2 linked regions of the Homo sapiens genome follow. The protein of the gene in region 2 interacts with the protein of the main gene of each other region in a biochemical or structural test. Each region holds a gene or a part of one and is shown on either strand. Other genes may lie near its edges.

Region 1 (3,500 bases), on a different chromosome or scaffold from region 2:
CCAGCTACTCAGTGGGCTGGGAGGTGGGAGGATCGCTTGAGCCCAGGAGGTCAAGGCTACAGTGAATTGTGATCGTGCCATCGAATTCCAGGTTGGGCAACACAGCGAGACCCAGTCTCAAAAGAAAAGGTGAGTCATTTGGTTTTCAGTGCAAAGGAATATTTATTTACACACAAGATTAGTTTATTTCATAAGGTAGTTGTAATACTACATATACAGCCATATCATCAAAAGGTAAAAAACATGAGTAATAATTACGAAAGCAACTATATTAGAGATTAGAATATAAAACTGTATTCATAAATAATTTTTCAATTTACAAAGCACTTTTTCATGTTATGCCATTTTATTGACCTTCACAAAAACCCTACCTCACGGTACTGATTACCACTAAATAAATCCTTTTGAAAAGAGTGCAACATAGATCAGACATAACTCTAATTAGACTGGCACACAGAATACAAGTATTTTGTTTACGCCAATAAAGCAGCTTGCTTTTTACTACTGAATTACTCCTAAAAAGTGTATGAACTTAAGTGAATTGAAATATGCACTTTAAATGCAACTAGAGATTAAACAGGACCTTGCAGTTAGATATAATAAAACCTGGAAACTCAGTAGAAGTACGTTATTTAAAAAACAAAAGCAAAAAAATGTTAAAAGCAGTTTTACTGGGGTAGTAGGTATATGTACAATTTTTTTTTTTAGTTTGTTATATACTTGCTACCTCTCAAAACACATCTTTTTAAGAAAACATTGAAGTAATAAAAAAATCCTTTAGAAATCTTATAAAGTATTTTGGGGGACAGAGATGACTATTAACAGGGAGTGTTTTATTACATTCTAAAAAGATTCATCACAAGGTTCCACACAAAAGTCAAATACCTGGTTCTAATCTATAACATATGTTTCCAGTTTAAACTGGCCTTTAAAAGCAGTGTCTTGCTTTTGAGAAAAAAGTAGAAATTCACCATACACATACACAGATGTTGATAGCTAAGAGGGAAAATGCTTAAAATTTAAGTTTATATACTCTTAGCAGTGCCTCTGTGTTAAATATTTTATCTATTTCCTTAAGTATAGTTCACTCTAACAGTTCCACATATACCTATGTGGAAAAGAATTAACTAAGAGCAACTTAGTAAGTGATTTGTTTCAAAGATACCCTCTTAGAAGATTATGATAACTTTATGTGATGTTTTACCTACTTTCAGTTTCATTTCTCTTGATCATGCCTTGGCACTCAGCTAAGATAGTCTCTTTAAATGATGTCACCAGGGCATTTACACAGCATTCCATGAGCTGAAATATATCAAAAATTAGTCAAGGCTACTATAAGCTGTATAGCACAAATCTATTCTAACTCACAAAATAAAACAATATTGTTCAACAAAAAAAAAATTATACTGAAAGTAGATTTCACTTACCTTAACTATAGGATTATTGAAGATGGATATGCTATACTAGTTTACCAAAGTGTATTTTCCCCTAAGGAAAAAAACTATAGAACTAGACTCTCTTTAGAAATTTTAACAAAAGTCCTCAAGGAGGGGAGAGAAAAATATACAAAACCAAACTTTGATTAACTCTTCCTGTCTGGAGAGAACCTGTTTTAAAATTAGGTTATAAAATTCTAGAAGTGTGAATACATTCATTCAACAAACCATTATTGGATGCCTACTACGTGCAGGCACTAAGGAAGTATTTAAGAGACAAGAATAAGATATAATTCCTGCTCTCGAAGAGATCACTGTCTAATTGAGAGTGAGGAGGGCAGTAAACCTACACTGCTAACTAAATATAACTCAGTTAAGTGGCATCACACACATACACAAACACACACAAAATAAAAAAAAACTTAGAAACTACTTTTTTCTAGGGTAGTTAAAATGGCCTCATCCACAAGTTGGTATCTAAATGGGATCCTGTAAAGTAAGTACAAGCCCTAAAATAGGTTACGTATTCTAGGAATACCAGGAAGCTTAAAATGGTAGAGAAGAAACAGACAGTGGAAGAGAAGGCTAGAAAGATAGGCTGCAACCAGATTATGAATGAAAATCTATGATTTGGGGTTTTATTTCATAGGTAGGGAAGGAAGAACAAAGGAAGGTTTTTTTGTTTGTTTAAGAGACAGAGTCTTGCTCTGCTGCCCAAGCTGGAGTACAGTGGCATTACTACATAGCTACTATCATACCTCACTACAGCCTTGAACTCCTAGGCTCAAGTGATCCTCCTGCCTCAGCCTCTTGAGTAGCTAGGACTACAGGGATGTACTATCAAGTCTGGTTAATTTTTTAAACTTTTCTGTAGAGATGATGTCTTGCTATGTTCCCCAGGCTGGTCACAAACTCCTGGTCTCACATGATCCCCCTGTCAGTCTCCCAAAGTGTGGGATTACAGGTGTGAACCATCAGGCCTGGCCCCAAGGAAGTTTTAAACAGAGGATAAATGTAATGAGATTCTCCTCTCCTCAAGTCATTATTAAAGATCAGTATAATGGTAGTAAGGCAGGTGGTAAGGAGTGGGTGGTTGGGATATGGTAACGAGGCTGTTGAACTATTTCAGGTAAGATAGCAAGGGTCTAGTGCTCTAGGAGGCCATCAGGAAAATCTAAATGAGGCAGAAGATATCATGTCATCTCTGCTCCCTCGTGTCATGTAATTATTTACTTCTCTTTTGGGGATCAGATGAAATTAATAGGTTGTGAGGACTAAAGTTAAGTACAATAAGGCTGATATATTTCTTCTGAAAAACAAATCATCTATCTGTAAATTAAGGGAGGCAATTATGTGTCCCTTAAAAATTTTTTATTAAAAATTCCTTTGGAATTGACATAATGTTGGTAACTACTAAAGCTGAATTTAGGTAATGGGGATTCATTATACTGTTCTTCCTACATTGTAAAAATGCTTAAAATTTTCCGAATAAAGAATTTTCTGTGGTCCCTGCGAGTTGGGGGGCTGAGGTGGGAGGGTCAGTTAAGCTCAGGAGGTCAAGGCTGCAGTAAGCCTTGATCATGTCACTGCAGTGTAGTCTGGGCGACAGAGCAAGACTGTCACAAAACAAAACAAAACAAAACAAAAAAAAAGGTTTTTTCAGGCTCCTCTACAAGAATGATGCTGATGACTTTTAAATGCATATATCCATGTATATTTCTGTCCTAAGAAAATAATACACATGGCTGGGCGTGGTGGCTCATAGCCTATAATCCCAGCACTTTGGGAGGCTAAGGCGGGCGGATCACCTGAGGTCAGGAGTTCAAGACCAGCCTGACCAACACAGAGAAACCCCATCTCTACTAAAAATTAGCCGGGCATGGTGGGTGCCTGTAATCCCAGCTACTCGGGAGGCTGAGGCAGGAGAATTGCTTAAACCTGGGAGGCAGAGATTGCAGTGAGCCGAGATCGTGCCATTGCACTCCAGCCTGGGCAACAAGAGCAAAACTCCGTCTCAAAAAAGGAAAAAAAAAAGAAAAATAAAGAAAAGACTACACATATAAA
Region 2 (3,017 bases):
ATACCAAAGTGCTGGGATTACAGACGTGAGCCACCATGCCTGAACAAAACTACATAAATTTTTAATTTTTTTTGTGGAAATGGAGTCTCACTATGTTTCCCAGGCTGGTCTCAAACTCTTGGCTCTGTCCTGCCACAGCCTCCCAAAGTGCTGGGATTATAGGTGTGGCGCCTGGCCCGTACAAATACTTTTTATTCTAGGCTTAACTTTTACATTGGCCCTAGCTAAATAGAAATCTCATCACTCAGGAATTAATCCTCATTTAATCAAACGGGTAGGGTGTAATCTTAGGAAATTATTGATTGACTCTACCTGATTGGATTTGTAGTTAATAGCTAATTAGGTTAATAACTAAATTCACAAGGCACAGTTTTATTTGATCTCTTTTAAATTGCTCTTAAGGATGTAACAAAGAGTGCGTGGGATGCCCTGAGGGCAGGCATTCGACTTCTGGAGCAGCAGCTTAACTTCTGAAATTCCTCCGAACCATGTGTCCACACCTCGTCTGGCTGCATCCGTGGGCCAGATGTGGGTGGTGAATCCTGTGGATTAGAGGTGGTGCTAGGTAGCCCCCAAGTGACTGCAGTGGTGGGTCCACAGGCAGCCTGCAGAGCCCGCCCTGCAGCATGCCAGCTGGGCCTGTGATGGGGCATCCAGAGGGTGTTGCCCTGAACACTCAGCATGTCTCCGCTGACACAGTGTGCTCAGGCTTTGTTAACATGGGGCCTGTTGGCTGCAGAGACTCAGGAGTTGAGAGTCTAATTTTTGGACCTGCTGATGGTTAAGTCATAGTGAGTCAGTGTTAACGCGCAAAGCGTTTGACGAGTCCAATGTGCTTCCATACTAAGCAGCACCAGGTTTCTTTTGCTAAAATTGAACTCCTGTGAAAAATTCAGAGTGACTAAGTTCATTCAACAAAGACCGTGGGAGCCCGAGGCTGGTAAACAATGAGTCCATCCCGCATCCCAGGGGACTCTGGTGGCAGTGCAGTTTTGCCGAGAGGAGTTTTAATTTAAAAAAATGCAATCAGGAGACCAGCAGGTCCTGGAATGAGTCACCCTCAGTGCATCTGCGGACTCATCAGACACCCCAGGCCGGCTTCGGGTGGGGAATGCACTAGAACGAAGTGACACCTTTGACTAAACGAGGCCTCCCCCGAGTACTCAGAGTGGCCCAGACCCCTCTCCTCAGGGGGCTAGCAGGCTTCAGCTCTCATTTGAAAGGGCCGATATCAAGCAGAGTTGTGCTGAGGCCAGAAACCCCCACGGGCAGGTCCTCCCAGGGCTGGGAGTGGGCATGCCGTGGGGCCGGCGCTGCCAGGACAGGAGGGTGGCCACGAGCTCCAGCTCCACAATGCCAGGCCGACCCTGCCGTGGGGCTGGGGCTGGGACTTGCTGTGCTCTGTTGGCAGCAGCTGTTCCTCAGGGGTTTCCAGGCTCTTGGAGATCAGGGACACTCATTTCTCTTGATCATGGCTGATACAAGCATCCCTCTCTGTGTCAGGTCCTCTCCATGGAGAAAGCATTTCTAGGTGTTTGGGCTGGTGCCCGCAGCCTGTGCCTGTCCTGGGAGGCAGGGCCCATCCACAGGTGCCCATCAACACAGCTTCCCCAACGCCTGGGCAGCACACCGGATCCCTGATGTCTAGGGAAGAGTCTTCTAGGTCCCCAGACCCCACCCCTCCTGCCCTTGATCAAGAGACCAGTTCACTACTCAGATGCACGTCTCCTTGGTGCCTTGACCATTCATGTGACCTTTTTGGCATCACAGATCAAGTGTCTGCAGATGGGCCCAGGGCCTGTAGGTCAGACATTGCCCTTTTTCCCCAGCCTCAAGCACAGGGGACACAGGGTGGGCTAGGCCAGAGCGCCACCTCCTCAGAGAGGCCCCTGGGCTCCCCACTGAGCATGATGAGCCTGGGTGAGGGGAGGCGCCTGCTGCGGTTGCCCCGGGTGGAGGCCGCATGTCCGGTGTCCCTTGGTCATTGCTGGTCTTCGCCTGGGGGCGGGCTGGTCAGGAGACCGATTGGGTAACACTCCTGATTTCGGCTTCTCTGAAACATGAGAGGCTGCAGTGCTGGAGCCACTGCCCAGGGTCCCTACCTGCACCCCTGCCTGGCTTGTCACATGCTCTGTGTCCAGCCTGGTCATGCCTGTCCTTTTCCCCACCTCCCCTCCGTAGGCAAGGTGCCCGGCGACGACTGCCCGCTGGTGTGGGGCCAGTGCTCCCACTGCTTCCACATGCATTGCATCCTCAAGTGGCTGCACGCACAGCAGGTGCAGCAGCACTGCCCCATGTGCCGCCAGGAATGGAAGTTCAAGGAGTGAGGCCCGACCTGGCTCTCGCTGGAGGGGCATCCTGAGACTCCTTCCTCATGCTGGCGCCGATGGCTGCTGGGGACAGCGCCCCTGAGCTGCAACAAGGTGGAAACAAGGGCTGGAGCTGCGTTTGTTTTGCCATCACTATGTTGACACTTTTATCCAATAAGTGAAAACTCATTAAACTACTCAAATCTTGCTGGAGGCCTCTGGGTGCCTGTGTTCTCGGCATATAGATGTGGTCTCGGTGTGTTTTGATATGAAAACTCTCATGAATAAACATCTCCGTGAAACGCCAAGGCCCTCGTCAAACCCTGAGTCATGACTGGGAGGAGAAGGAGCAGGATCAGACGGTAGAGCCTGGGGCATGCTCTTCAGGCATGCTCTTGCCTGCTGGATTGCCGGCGGCGGCCCTGGGACCCTCCCTCAGGCTGGCTCTGAGGGACCCTGGCTGTGCAAAGCTGGCGGCCACTGCTTGTGGCGCCTCCAGACTGAAGGCCACCATCTCTGAGTGGGCGTCCATTGTTCTCACTGGGACTGTCTGCAGCGGGGCTGGGCCTCCCACAGTGTAGGGATCAGTGTCCTGACACTGGGAAGTGTGTCCACACGTCTGAGGCTTCCCTTCCTAGGGAAAGGTGGCCCTGGGAGGCTCCTTTGTGTGCCTCTGCTCCCCACAATCGTGGTGGGAAGGGGCCGCTG

The links. Proteins that work in one complex are often made in the same cells at the same time.
Region 1: the proteins of ANAPC11 (region 2) and CUL5 form a complex in vitro, tested with the Homo sapiens proteins (one study listed by BioGRID).

Annotation. Positions count from the first base shown.
Region 1 is NC_000011.10:108,067,898-108,071,397, reverse strand, and holds part of CUL5 (cullin-5), read right to left. Parts: intron 1,303-3,500; coding exon 1,209-1,302; intron 1-1,208. UniProt on the Homo sapiens protein: Core component of multiple cullin-5-RING E3 ubiquitin-protein ligase complexes (ECS complexes, also named CRL5 complexes), which mediate the ubiquitination and subsequent proteasomal degradation of target proteins.
Region 2 is NC_000017.11:81,897,739-81,900,755, forward strand, and holds the end of ANAPC11 (anaphase-promoting complex subunit 11), read left to right. Parts: intron 1-1,503; coding exon of another isoform or gene 1,504-1,804; intron 1,805-2,181; coding exon 2,182-2,327; coding exon of another isoform or gene 2,328-2,412; 3' UTR 2,413-2,517; downstream 2,518-3,017. UniProt on the Homo sapiens protein: Together with the cullin protein ANAPC2, constitutes the catalytic component of the anaphase promoting complex/cyclosome (APC/C), a cell cycle-regulated E3 ubiquitin ligase that controls progression through mitosis and the G1 phase of the cell cycle.